Homo sapiens: one gene and its partner. The protein of the gene in region 2 purifies or fractionates together with the protein of the main gene of each other region. This does not show direct contact. Each region holds a gene or a part of one and is shown on either strand. Other genes may lie near its edges. The genes, in order: SEC16A and SEC24C.

Region 1 (7,269 bases), on a different chromosome or scaffold from region 2:
GGAGGATGGCTTGAACCCAGGAGGTGGAGGTGGCGGTGAGCTGAGATCACACCATTGCATTCCAGCCTGGGCAACAAGAGCGAAACTCCGTCTCAAAAAAAAAAAAAAAAAAAAAAGGAACCCTGTACCCTTGGTCACGTGACGCTGAGGGAGACAACGGGCGAGGTTAGTGGCAAAGCGCACGTGGCGAACCGGCACCGCGTGCTCAGGAACACAGGCGGCACACGCCAGCTCTCATGTTAGTGAGGACCACCAGCCGCAGGTACCTGATTAAAATGCTGGCTCACTTCACGTGATAATGAACTCATTGAACTACAGCGCGAAAGCTACAAAACAGCAAGAACACACATAAAACACGGACGAAAGTCAACATGCACGTCACTGTCCAATCCAAGCTGTCAGTTCCATTTCAAAAGCTTTGTGATGCCATTAGAATCAACATAACTCAAAAGGGAAAAAAAAGCCAGTGTTAGCTTAAGATTCCTGTCTTAATGTAAAGCTGTTATCCCGAAACAACCATTAGCTTAGGGGAGGGCTGGGAGGAAAAGTCCAGCCTCGGCCTAAGCCAGCTTCACCTCCTGACACCTCACAATTCAAGACAATTCCCGTGCTGTTGAAGGGAGAGGACCGGGACTGAGGCGACAACTCAAACCCCCTGCACCCCTCCTGGAGCTCCCAAACAGTTTTGTTAAAACAAGTGCAATTTTTTTTCCCCCAGGAACACCACCTTCGAGGTGCTCTTGTTTCTAAACTGCCTCTTCCTACCCAGTACCGCCCCTCCATAAAGGAAGAGGCGCCTGGACAGTGAGCTGCTGGGGAGGCCTGGGCTGCGGGGGGCCCTGGCGTCGGCACTCCTTACCTCTCCTCCCTGGGAACCCTCAGGCCTGGAGGAGGGGAGTTCAGAGCCAGGGAGTGACGCTGCAGAGCTTAAAACCTGCCGAGGAAAAGAAGAATTGCAGCAACCAAATCCCAGGGAATTTAAGTCTCTCACACCAGGCCAAAAAATATGAAACTGTTCTGGCCTGGGTTACAAACGCCCTCTTCCACGTAAAGTGCTCCTCAGAGAGAAGTGAAAAGTGCCTCACACGTGGGTCCAGCCGCACAACCCTGTTGACTCTAGACCCCTGCAGCTCTCTACCAGGTGCCTGTGTGTGCCCATGACAGGCTTGCAATCTGGGGCTACTGTTATTCCCATTTTACAGAGGGGAAAACTGAGGCTTAGACAGGTGAGTGACTGCCCCATGCTTTACACAGCTGATGAATGGAGAACAGGATTAGGCCCAGGCCTGTCCCACCGTACAGAGTGCAGTCTGAGCTGGTTTTTTTTTTTTTTTTTTTGAGATGGAGTCTGGCTCTGTTGCCCGGGATGGAGTGCAATGGCGCAATCTCAGCTCACTGCAACCTCTGCCTCCTGGGTCCAAGCGATTCTTCTGCCTCAGCCTTCTGAGTAGCTGGGATTACAGGCACCCGCCACCACACCCAGGTAAATTTTGTTTTTTTTTTAGTAGAGATGGGGTTTCACCATGTTGGCCAGGCTGGTCTCGAACTCCTGACCTCAGGTGACCCGCCCAGCTCAGCCTCCCAAAGAGCTGGGATTACAGGCATCATCCACCACTCCCGACTGGTCTGAGCTGTTCTACTTCACATGGGAGTCATTTGTTTTTTGTTTTTTTTTTTTGGATGAAAATATACTTAACTTTTATTATCGGTAGGTAATTTCTCTGTAACTTAGAGTAATTAATTTTACTTTTTCCAATTTTAAAAATTGTAAAATATACATACTGTAAAATTTGCCACTTTAATCATTTTTAAGTTTTAAGCACATTCACCGTGCTGAGCAACCATCACCGCCACTATCCCCAGATCTCCGTCTTCCCAAACAGCTCTGTCCCGCCCGGCACCCTGCATTCTACCTTCCGTCTCTACCATACATAAGTGTGAGGCGTTTAAGGCGGAACACTCTACGTACACATTGGATACTGACTTGCAGAAGGCAAGGCCCTGTCTGGCAGGATGGGGAGGTGCCTCCTCACTGGGTACCTTTCCCCTTTCCCACCGTACCCGCTCACCTTGGGCTCTGGGGCAGGCTCTGGATTGGCCAGGCCCCTAGCTGCTGCAGGCCCTTCCCTGCCAGTCCCGTCTGGAAGCTGTGGTTCTTCTGCATCTGGGGATGAGAGAGCGAGGAGGCCATCATTCCGTCCCGAACGTCCCTGGGGTCTCACTGAAGACACTCCGAGAGGAAGAGAGTTTCACACTGCACACGCGGCACACTCATGCAGAAACAGGCAAATCAAAAAAAAAACCACAAACCAACCCCAGGCTCTCTGCATGCTGGCCAGGTCATTCTTTTAACGGGAGATTTAGGAGAGACTCATAGAAAGAGGATCAAAGGTCAGGAGACTGGGGGCTGACCTGGAGGGGCTGGTGCTCGTGCTACCTACCTGGGGTTGGCACGAACAAGTTAGAAGGAATTGGGAGTGGCGCGAGTGGAGCGACAAAGTCCGCAGGAGCGAGAGCCGGCTCGCTCCGCTGGGTCCCGCTTGGGTTCAGGACGTCAACGTAGCGAGCTCTGGTTCCTGCTGCAAAGGGGAGGGAAGCAAATTGAGGTGAACGCGCCAGGTGGCCTCCAGCTTCCAAATGCTCTGCGCTCACTGCGTCAGAGGAAAAGCACGCAGGGACGTGCGGGAAGCCACCTCCTCCCCACGCACAACAGCTACACATTGGCCTCTCTCTCTGGGACAGTTAATCGTTCAAGCAAGCTCCCACTCCAAGGCCACCCTTACCTGCTCTTCTAGAGTACATGTTCACGGGGGCTCCAGGAGGCCCTGGGAGGGCAGGCGGGGCAGCTTGCACAGTCTTGGGCATCGAGGTTGGAGGTGGGGGCGGGGCTTTCTTCTGCAGAGGGAAACACAGCTTCAGACACCCACTGTGTGCACAGAAACCCACTGGGATGGCACAGTCAGGAGGCTCCAAAAGGGGCAACAGCCACCCAAATATCACAGGGCCACATGAGGCTGTTCCCTCCACTCACACCTCACACCCAACAGGAACTAGAATGACAATTTACCTCCTCTTCTGGCTCATTTAAATTCACCCACTGGTTTTTCTTTTCATCCCAAACAATCTGCCAAGATTTTAAAAAGAAAAAAGGTCAGCAGACTGAACCTAAACAGAATTAGCATCTGATTAATGATGACACTTCAAAACTTCAGGAAACACCTACTCAGGTCTGCTCTGAAAGTGACAGAAAAATCATTACAATTCTTCGGACGTCCCGTGCGTATTTGACAGCACTCACCGATTTGTTCTTGTCATCTGGCAAATAAGCTTCTGTCTTTTTCTTTCCAGGTAGCCAACGAAAGAACCAGGATTCACCCTAAATATAAAAAACACGAGAACAACTTTGAAAACATTATGTTCCATGAAATAAGCCAGGGCAAAAAGACAAATTCTACATGACCCACTTCTGTGAGGCCCCAGAGTCGCCAGATCCACAGAGACACCAGGAGAATGGAGGTGGGAGCAGATCCACAGAGACACCAGGAGGATGGAGGTGGGGAGCAGATCCACAGAGACACCAGGAGGATGGAGGTGGGGGGCGATCCACAGAGACACCAGGAGGATGGAGGTGGGGGGCGATCCACAGAGACACCAGGAGGATGGAGGTGGGAGCAGATCCACAGAGACACCAGGAGGATGGAGGTGGGGGGCAGATCCACAGAGACACCAGGAGGATGGAGGTGGGAGCAGATCCACAGAGACGCCAGGAGGATGGAGGTGGGGAGCAGATCCATAGAGACACCAGGATGGAGGTGGGGAGCAGATCCAGACACACCAGGAGGATGGAGGTGGGGAGCAGATCCACAGAGACACCAGGAGGATGGAGGTGGGGAGCAGATCCAGAGACACCAGGAGAATGGAGGTCGGGGGCAGATCCACAGAGACACCAGGAGGATGGAGGTGGGGGGCAGATCCACAGAGACACCAGGAGGATGGAGGTGGGGAGCAGATCCACAGAGACACCAGGAGGATGGAGGTGGGAAGCAGATCCAGAGACACCAGGAGGATGGAGGTGGGAGGGAACCGGGAGTTGTTTCGTTTCAAGGAGACAGAGTTTCTGTTTGGGAAGGTGAGACAGTTCTGGAGATGGATGGTGGTGATGGCAACACAACAGTGTGAATGTACTTGGTGCCACAGAACTGTGCACTCAGAAAATGGTAAAAATGTGCATTTTGTTCTGTGTATTTTACTGTCATTTAAATAGGTCAGAACAGTAACGTGCCTTCAGGAACTTTTTACGTCTAAACACTGACAAAGCTTCCGACGTCCTCCCCTTTGAGAAGTGGAAGGCGGGCTGTCCAAGTCAGTGTGTGTCGGAGGCAGATACAGCCCTCTGTGTTTCCCATGTGTGGAGAATTCGGTTATTAGGAAACTTTACTTTATTCTTCACATGATGCACTTCATTTTGGTTTGTTAGTTTTCTGAGACAGAGTCTCGCTCTGTCCCCCAGGCTGGAGTGCAATGGCGCGATCTCGGCGCACTGCAACCTCTGCCTCCCGGGTTCAAGTAGTTCTATGCCTCAACCTCCTGAGTAGCTGGGATTACAGGCACCCACCACCATGCATGGCTAATTTTTGTATTTTTAGTAGAGATGGGGTTTCACCATCTTGGCCACGCTGATCGTGAACTCCTGACCTCATGATCTGCTCGCCTCAGCATCCCAGAGTGCTGGGGTGACAGGCGTGAGCCGCCGCACCCTGACTCCCAGAATGCTGGGGTGACAGGCAGGAGCTGCTGCGCCCGGCCTCCCAGAGTGCTGGGGTGACAGGTGTGAGCCGCCATGCCCGGCCTGATGCACTTCACTTCTACTGAAGAAAGAGGAGAAGCCTCAGCAGCTACTACACACCCTCAATTCTGTTTCTCTGTGAGTTCTACTGGCCAGACAAGCTGTCCCGGGGAGGCCTGTGATAGCCTATGCACTGGAAACCTGCTCAAGTATCATGTTTTATCTCAGAGCTCACACAAATTTGGAATTAAATGTGTGTTTATTTTCAAGACAGCAGCCATAAAAGAAAAATCTGATCACTGAACTTTATTAAAATGAAGAATGATATTTTTCATAAAATACCATTACTAGGCCGGGCATGGTGGCTCACACCTGTAATCCCAGTACTTTGGGAGGCCAAGGCAGGCAGATCACTTGAGGTCAGGAGTTTGAGACCAGCCTGGCCAACATGGTGAAACCCCATCTCTACTAAAAATACAAAAAATTAGCTGGGAGTGGGGTGGGCACCTGTAATCCCAGCTACTGGAGAGGCTGAGGCAGGAGAATTGCTTGAACCTGGGAGGCGGAGGTTGCAGTGAGCCAAGATCATGCCAATGCACTCCAGCCTGGCTGACAGAGTGAGACCCTGTCTCAAAACAAACAAACAAACAAACAAACAAAAAACCATTACAAGTAAAAAGGCAATCTACAGATTGGGAGAAGATATCACAATAAATACACCTAACAGAGGACTTATATCCATAATACAGAAAGGACTCCTGCAAGTCCTGAAGAGAACACCATTAAAAATGGAAAGGAAAGCCAGGTGTGGTGGCTACACCTGCAGTCCCAGCTACGAGGCAGGAGGATCACTTGGGCCCAGGAGTTTGAGACCAGCCTGGGCAATAGTGAGACCCCATCTTTATGGGGGAAAAAAAAAACAACGGATAGAGACTTGAACAAGCACTGCCCCAAAAGAGTGGTGAGATGGTAACAGGGACACGAGAAGGTGCCCAGCGTCACACCTCGCTGTGGAGATGCAGAGGAAGACACAATGAGATGTCATCAGCCCCAGCACAATGGCTAAGTTAAAGAACCGGCACTGCCCAGTATTGGTGAAGATGAGGGATATCCAGGGCCCTTGTCCTCTGCTGCAGGATGTGTGACTTGGGGCAACCAACCATTTAGGACAACTGCTCAGCAGTGTCTCCTAAAGCTGAACACACGCTCATCCTGCGAGCTAAACCCTCAGCTCCTTGGCACGCACCTAAGAAAAACAAGCGCATTCGCCAATAGATAGGCAAGGAGGCTCCTGGGGCCTGACGGATCCCAGCCCCACACTGAAAGCAGTCCCAAAGTCCACGGCTGGGAGAAAGGATCTGTGAGCCGGCAGCAGGCACACACCACAGTGACAAAGCAGCGGCTGCCGTCTGGTCCCTTGCGGGTGGGTCTGACAGGTAGTGGCCAGAGGCGACCTCTGGGGGCCGGGCTGTGTCCCCATGCTGACCTGGGTGGGCTATTATCCTATTATCTGAAGGCACAAATACACAGACACCCATCATGCCGTGTGCACTGTAGACACTCGGCTGTTTGTATCAGGAGGCTATTTGCATGTGTGGTGAATTAAGAGGATGGCGCTCTGGGAAGCGTGCCTCCTGCCCAAACCCTCCCGGCCGCCAGGCGCACCGTGGGCAGGCTGTACTACCTTCTTAGGTTCCTTCGTTTCTTTCTTGGCTGCCTGTCCGGGTCTCTTTGTTTCGGGAGCGGGTGAGAGAGACAGAGGTGGCTGCGTGGGACCCGAGTCGGCACGATCCCACCCTGGGGGGGCCTCCGAGTCTGGCACCGTCCTCGAGGGGGTCTGTCGCAAGGAAATGCAGAACAGGCTCTCCTGGGGCTCCTCACAGGAACCGAAAGAGAGAGGGGGATGCAATTCCCCAGGCGTGTTTCCTAAATACATCACTGAGAGGCCGGATGACTCTGGTGACCAGAGGGAGGCAGGAAGGGGGCTGGGGAGAGCAGCCCCCTGACTGGGCCTCCCAGAGCCTCTACCTGGCCTGACTAGAGAAGAGCCAGCCGCACTTAATAAGCAGCTCCGTCTGGGAGCACTCAGCACTCAGAATGCAAATGAGGGCGTTCGATGGAGATTCCGGGCTGGAAGAAACGGAGTGTGAGCATGCACTGAGGGAAGACTGGCCAGAGGGGGGCGATGGGTGTTCTCAAAGATACAATGATTTTTAAAAATATTTATTCCTGGGTCAAGTCCCAATTTTTAATAGCTCAACCCTCATTTTTACTTTTCCAGGGACACAGTATTTTAAAGGGTAAAACACCTAATGCAAGTTCAAACTATAGCAATCGCCTACTGATGGGATGCCCGTGAAGGGCTGGGTATCTGTAAAGAAGGTTCCAGAATGCGGTCTGTATAAAAGCAACCATCCCTCCTGGTTAGGAGTAGAGCAAACAGAGGAGGTATTTATACCAAACATGTCTAATGAGATAAATCT
Region 2 (7,269 bases):
ACAATGGCTAAGCATGGCAAGGTAACTGACATAGCAAATGTTACAGGTGGAACTATAAAGTGGCCCCTACTTGGCAGTACAGTCCTAGTCTCTATTCTGAGTCTGATAAGGAGGGCCTGAGGATTCTGATGGCTCCAAGGGTGCAATTCACCCTCTTCCTGAAAAAAGCAGCTCTCCAGTGGGACTTTACATACACACTGCCCTCATAAACTGTCGTTCACTCTTCCCCATCCACACAGCAGAAGCCTACCAAACAAAAGTACTGGGGACTTCCTCCTAAAACTGTCCAAGTAAGAGCAGAGAAACCAGTGAGGCTTTCCTTCTCTTAACATCTAACATCAGAGAATTCCCACCTGCTCTACCCATTAGGAAGAATGCCATCCTTCTAGATCTAAGGGGACAAGACCCAGTCACTGCTCCACAGAAGGACAAAGGCTACTATACTATGTATGTACAGTAGTGACAGAGTGCAGCCCTCAGACATCTACTGGTGCTGCTGCTCACTCTTGGTTTCCCTTCCTTCTCTGCCCAGCTATAGAGTAAAACAGCCCCCCAAAAGACTCCTAGAACCTCAAGTTCCAGTTCAGAATCAAATTATATGTAAGTTCTCCAAGAAGATGAACAAAAAGGGAAAATTATCAGAAAATGCTAGGCAAACATTTCATCTAGATTGACCTGCCTATCTGGCAGACACAAACCCTTCCTCAGGACCATGAAAGTTTCTACTTACAGGGCTTGGGATGGCATCAGGGTCCAGGCGCTTAGGAGGCAGTGGCTGAGGAGGCCCAGGCTGACTGCCAAAGGTGGGTGCTGCTGGGTAGGGGCCTCCATAATTAGACTGAGGGCCCCGGGCTGGTCCGAAGGAACCTGAGACAAGGACACAAGGTTGATGAACTCAAAATCCCATCCCTATCTCTTCTTAAGGCCTCAGGAAAATGACTAGACTCCTAAAAACATAGAATTATGAGGCACACTAATGCCTGGCAAAGACATTCAGAAAAATACCATGTTATCAGAACGACAAGAAAAAATAATGTCTTACAAACCCCATATCCTAGGAATAATACCCTGAAGCTACCCATCTAATTCACCACTTAGCAAGTAATACTAAAAACAAACAAATAAAAAACATCAAAAACCACCTGAGTAGCTGAAGCCTCTAGCTTCTAAGACAGACCTTGGGAAAGACTCACCATTTTGTTGGGGCTGATAGCCTGGCTGCTGCGGGGAGTGCATAGGTGGCAGTGGTCCCAGGGGCCCAGTCATCTGGGTGCCAGGGGGCAGAGCTTGAGGAGGTGAAGACACATGGTTGGGCTGGCTCACTGAGGGCCCTCCAAAACTCTGTCCAGGCAGGAGTGGACCAGTCATCGAAGGCAGCCGAGGACCCCCTGAAGCTGGGGGTGTGAAGCTGGAGGCCTGTGATGGGGCAGATCGCTGGGGAGTCTGGATCCCAGGATGACCTTGGGCCTGGCTAAGGGGAGGAGCCTGGCCCTGAGGATAGGAGCCATACAGACCAGAGTTAGGGAAACTTCCTGAGGCTGAAGCCAGCGATGTTGGTGGGCCTGAGAAGTAGAATAAAGGTAGAGTCAAAAGCCCAGTCATTCTGCCTCCTTGTTCGGTATATCACTTCCCTTTCCACACAAGAGGGGCAAATATGACTGTCCCATCTTCTGAGGCTCAGAGGCACAGGAAATACAAGGGAAATAAAAGAGATTCAGGTATAACCCCAGAGTCTGATGCCTCTGAACAGGGGACAGTAACATTCCTGTGTTCACAGCCACTCACCAAAGCCCAGCCCTGAAGAAGGAGGGGCTGGGGCCACAGCACCGCTGATCTGCATTCCAGACAGCTGCGTAGCCACCTGTGCACTTGTCGGGGGAGGGCCATAGGGCTGAAGCACAGGTGGCTGGTTGCCCACAGGGGCCAATGGGGACCCAAATGGCTGAGACCCAGGCAGCCTGTGAAAAGAAAGCAAGCAGAGGTGACTAGTGGGGCCAGGACACCCTTTGAAGTCTACAGAAGTGTCACATCATACAGGAAGCTACATTGTTTTGTGACATCTTACTCTCACACCCTGAGTTCTTTTATGGCTTCATACTTTTGTATATTTGTGGGTAAATTATATTCCTGATTATTCATGGCAAATCTTGTTTTCCATTAAGCTCACTCCACAAACATAAACCAAGCACCTTCAGGTCAAGTACTATTTACTCTGCTAACTAAATTACTGCTTCCTCTGCTTCAATTCTTTGACAAACCTCTTCAGTTTTGTAATCTGAAGCCCTGAAAGCACTGAAAGGGAAGGCACGCATAAGCATGCATGAACCTTAATAAATATGAAATCAAACAAATGCAGATTGATTGTCCAGCTTTTTTTTTTTTTTGAGACAGGGTCTCACTCTGCCACCCAGGCTGAAGTGCAGTGGTGTGATCACAGCTCATTGCAGCCTCAACTTTCCAGGCTCAGCTGATCTTCCCACCTCAGCCTCTCAAGTAGCTGAAACGAAAGTCACACGCCACCATGCGTGGCTAGTTTTCGCATTTTTTATAGATACGGAGTCTCGCCATGTTGCCTAGGCTGGTCTCAAACTCCTGAGCTCAACGAATCTGCCCGCCTCAGTCTACCACAGTGTCTTTCCAATATACTTTCCATTCAGTGTCTCCCTCTCTGATTATTCCCATCAGCACAAAAACATACAAACATCTCACACACACACACACACACACAAAAACCAACTATAGTGGAAACATCCCAAATGTCTATCAGCAGAAGAATGGATAAACAAAATGTGGCATGTAGCTACACAATGAAAAACCACTTAACCACAAAAAGGAATGGAGTACTAATATACACTACAACATAGTTGAACTTTGAAAATATTATGCTAAATTAAAGAAGTCAGTTATAAAATATCACATAGTATATGATTCTATTCTAATGAAAAGTCCAGAATAGGGAAATCTTTAGAGACAGAAAGTAGATCAGGAGTTGCTTAAGGTTGGAAGAATAGGGGAATGGGGGAATAGCTAAACAGGGGTAGTTAAAGAATGCAGTATTTCTTCTTCAGATGATGAAAATGTTCTAAAACTGACTGTAGTGATATCTGTCAATATACTAAATTGTGACAGCACATATCTGTCAATATATTAAAAACCACTAAATATACAAAAACACTTTAAACAGACGAATTGCACAGTATATGAATTATATCTCAAAAAACTTTTTAAAAATCCAACCAAATTACCTCACAGCCCCCTCAAACTTTTGCTCCCCTTTTAGCTAAACATTACAAAAGAATAGGTCTATACTCTGTCTCTACTTTTTTTTTTCTTTTCTTTTCTTTTGAGACAGAGTCTCACTCTGTCGCCCAGGCTGGAGTGCAGTGGTGCGATCTTGGCCCATCACAACCTCCACCTCCTGGGTTCAAGCAATTCTCCTGCCTTAGCCTCCCGAGTAGCTGGGACTACAGGTGCCCACCATCATGCCTGGCTAATTTTTGTATTTTTAGTAGAGACGGGGTTTCACTATGTTGGCCGGGCTGGTCTCGGAACTCCTGACCTCGTGATTCGCCCGCCTCAACCTCCCAAAGTGCTGGGATTACAGGCGTGAGCCACCGTGCCCAGCCTTACGTTTTTTTTTTTTTTTTTTTTTTTTTTTTGAGACAGGGTCTCGCTCTGTCACCCAGGCTGGAGTACAATGGCACTCACTATCTGTGGCTCACTGCAGCCTTGACCTCCTGGGCTCAAGCAATCCTCCCCCTAAGCCTCCCCTCCCAAGTATCTGAGACCACAGGCACACACCACCACACCTAGCTAATTTTTTTTATTTTTTGTAGAGACAGGGTCTTGCTATGCTGCCCAGGATAGTCTTGAACTCCTACCCCGGCTTCACAAAGTGCTGGGATTACAAACATGAGCACTGTGCCTGGCCCAACTCTAATCAAAGTGCCTTTCTCCGATAATCCCTTCCAGCCCGGACTGAGGTGTGGTTGTTCTACATTTGTTTCCAGAAGGTACTCCAATAATGACAGTGTCACCCTAGATTGATTTTTTTTTTTTTTTAGTTTTTGAGACAGGGTCTCACTCTGGCACCCAGGCCACAGTGCAGCGAAGCCATCATGGCTCACTGTAGCCTCAACCTCCAGGGCTCTAGCAATCCTCCTGCCTCCACCTCTGCTTCCCAGGCACACCAACAATGCTCAGCTATTTTTTTTTTTTTATAGCGACAGGATCTCCCTATGTTGCCCAGGCTGGTCTAAAACTTCTGGCCTCAAGTGATCCTCCTGTCTCAGCCTCCCAAGGTGTTGAGATTACTACAGGCATGAGCCACTGCACCTGGCCTCTAATTTAAAAAAAAAAAAAATTAGGCCAGGTGCAGTGGCTCATGCCTGTAATCCCAGTACTTTGGGAGGCCGAGACAGATGGATCATTTGAGGTCAGGAGTTCAAGACCAGCCTGACCAACATGGTGAAACTCCATCTCTACTAAAAAAATACAAAAATTAGCCCAGGCGTGGTAGTGCACACCTGTAATCCCAGCTACTCAAGAGGTTCAGACAGGAGATTCACTTGAACCTGGGAGGTGGAGGTTGCAGTGAGCCAAGGTCACACCACTTCACTCCAGCCTGGGTGACAGAGCGAGACTTCATCTCAAAAAAAAAAAAAAAAAAAAAAAAAAAAATTGGCCAGGAACAGTGACTCACACCTGTAATCCCAGAACTTTGGGAGGCCAACACAGGTGAATCACTTGAGGTCAGTTCAAGACCAGCCTGGCCAACATGGTGAAACCCTGTCTCTACTAAAAATACAAAAAATTAGCCTGGCATGGTGGTCATGCCTGGAATCCCAGCTACTTGGGAGGCTGAGGCAGGAGAATCACTTGAACCCAGGAGGCAGAGGCTGCAGTGAGCTGAGATCGTGCTATTGCACTCCAACCTGGGCAATAAGACCAAAACTCTGTCTCAAAAAAAAAAAAATATTACTGAGATGTAATTTCCATACCATTAAATTCACTTCAAGTGAACAATTCAATGATTTTTAGTAAATTTAGTTATGCAACCATCACCAGAATCAAATTTTAAAACATTTTCATCATTCCAAAAAGATGTCATGTCCATTTGCAGTCCCAAGAACTTTTTTTTTCACCCATCCACAGCCAGCCTGAGAGAAACAGCACTCCTTATCTCCCCTTTCCAGCGTGCAGACTTTTTTCCCCTAGTCAGCTTGTTCAATGAAGGTGCAGCCCAGGTCCAGACTTTATAAACAATGTCTCAGTTCCAAAACTACTCTCAGGAAAGCCCAAGGACTCATCTGCCTTCCCCAGTACCTGCTTAAATTTAAGGCCCTGGCTTCTCAAGATGATGAATCCACCCAATCTACAGGCAGCTCCAGAGTCAATTTACCACTCTGATTTTCAGTCCTCACTTGATGGCCAGGCACAGTGGCCCATGCCTGTAATCCCACCACTTTGGGAGGCCAAGGTGGGCGGTTCACCTGAGGCGAGGAGTTTGAGACCAGCCTGGCCAACACGGTGAAACCTCATCTCTACTAAAAATACAAAAATTAGCCGGGCATGGTGGCCCACATCTGTAGTCCCAGCTACTTGGGAGGCTGAGGCAGGGGAATCGCTTGAACCTGGGAGGTAGAGGTTGCAGTGAGCAGAGATCGTGCCACTGCACTCCAGCCTGGGCGACAGAGCAAGACTCTGTATTTAAAAAAAAAAAAAGATTTTCAGTCCTCACTTGGTCTCTAAAACTTAAGAATTTCACATTTTCTTTCAAGCTTAACTTTGCACTTAAAAATTTTTTTTGTTTCTATTTTCTCTCTCCTTTCTAGACTTTGGTAGCAGAGGGTTTTCAGATTATGTCAATCTACCACCCGGTTGAAACTTTTTTTTTTTCCTGAGACGGAGTCTCGCTGTCTGTCGCCCAGGCTGGAGTGCAGTGGCAAGATCTCGGCTCACTGCAAGCTCTGCCTCCTGGGTTCACGCCATTCTCCTGCCTCAGCCCCCCAAGTAGCTGTGACTATAGGAGCCTGCCACCGCGCCCAGCTAATTTTTTGTATTTTTAGTAGAGACGGGGTTTCACCGTGTTAGCCAGGATGGTCTCGATCTCCTGACCTTGTAATCCACCCGCCTCGGCCTCCCAAAGTGCTGGAATTACAGGCATGAGCCACCGCGCCTGGCCTGAAACTCTGACTCACTCCAACTGGGTAGTTTTCTTTATCTCTACACTGAAACTGCCTTTACCAATGACGCCAACCTTGCCAAATTCAATGGTCAATTCTCCATCTTCATCTTACAATTTGGCAGCATCTGACACAACTGATTACTCTCTCACCTTCTTGAAATACTCTCTTCACCTGACTTCAGGACACCACACTCTCCCGGCTTATCTCCCACCTCACTACTGCTCTTTCTCATTGTCTTTTGTTTTTTTTTTGTTTGTTTGAGATGGGGTCTTACTCTGTCATTCAGGTTGGAGTGCAGCGGTGCGATTTCGGCTCACTGCAACCTCCGCCTCTTGGTTTCAAGCCATCCTCCCACCTCAGCCTCCCAAGAAGCTGGGACCACAGGCATGTGCCACCACACCCGGCTAATTTTAGTATTTTGGTAGAGACAGGGTTTCACCATGTTGCCCAGGCTTGTCTCGAACTCCTGAGCTCAAGCAATCTGCCTGCCTCAGCCTCCCAAAGTGCTGGGATTACAGGAGTGAGGCACTGCACCTGGCCCCTCATTGTCTTTTAATGGCGGCTCCTCTTTACTTTTAAATGTTGCTAAGCTCCAAGTCTCAGTCCTCAATTCCATTCTTTAATCTCAATACTCACTTTTTAAATGATTTCATCTAGTCCCACGGCTTTAAATATCTATAGACTGAGGACTCCCAAATTTTTATCTCCAGTCCTAGCATCAGTCTTGAGCTGCAGATTTGTATATGCACCTGCCTACCTAACATCTCTACTTGAATAGAGTTTATATGAGGGACTTGAGCCTTTGTGGATTTTGGTATCTGTTGGTCAGGGGAGGTCCTGGAACCATTCCCCCATGGATACTGAGGAATGACTGTAGTGAGATTTGGGATACATCTTGAAGGTGGAATCAATAGAATTGGATGTGGGTTATACGGCATCATATTTGCATATAACCTCCCATATACTTTTTTTTTCCTGAGACGAAGTCTCACTCTGTCGCCCAGGATGGAGTGCAGTGGCACAATCTTGGCTCACTGCAACCTCTGCCTCCTGGGTTCAAGCGATTCTCCTGCCTCAGCCT

The links.
Region 1: the proteins of SEC24C (region 2) and SEC16A purify together in Homo sapiens (affinity purification with western blotting; 2 studies listed by BioGRID and IntAct, with this or other methods). This does not show direct contact.

Annotation. Positions count from the first base shown.
Region 1 is NC_000009.12:136,444,786-136,452,054, forward strand, and holds part of SEC16A (protein transport protein Sec16A), read right to left. Parts: intron 6,624-7,269; coding exon 6,471-6,623; intron 3,377-6,470; coding exon 3,299-3,376; intron 3,125-3,298; coding exon 3,068-3,124; intron 2,896-3,067; coding exon 2,784-2,895; intron 2,580-2,783; coding exon 2,442-2,579; intron 2,231-2,441; coding exon of another isoform or gene 2,165-2,230; coding exon 2,070-2,164; intron 935-2,069; coding exon 860-934; intron 327-859; coding exon 267-326; intron 1-266. UniProt on the Homo sapiens protein: Acts as a molecular scaffold that plays a key role in the organization of the endoplasmic reticulum exit sites (ERES), also known as transitional endoplasmic reticulum (tER).
Region 2 is NC_000010.11:73,754,311-73,761,579, reverse strand, and holds part of SEC24C (protein transport protein Sec24C), read right to left. Parts: intron 1,959-7,269; coding exon 1,786-1,958; intron 1,563-1,785; coding exon 1,194-1,562; intron 868-1,193; coding exon 731-867; intron 1-730. UniProt on the Homo sapiens protein: Component of the coat protein complex II (COPII) which promotes the formation of transport vesicles from the endoplasmic reticulum (ER).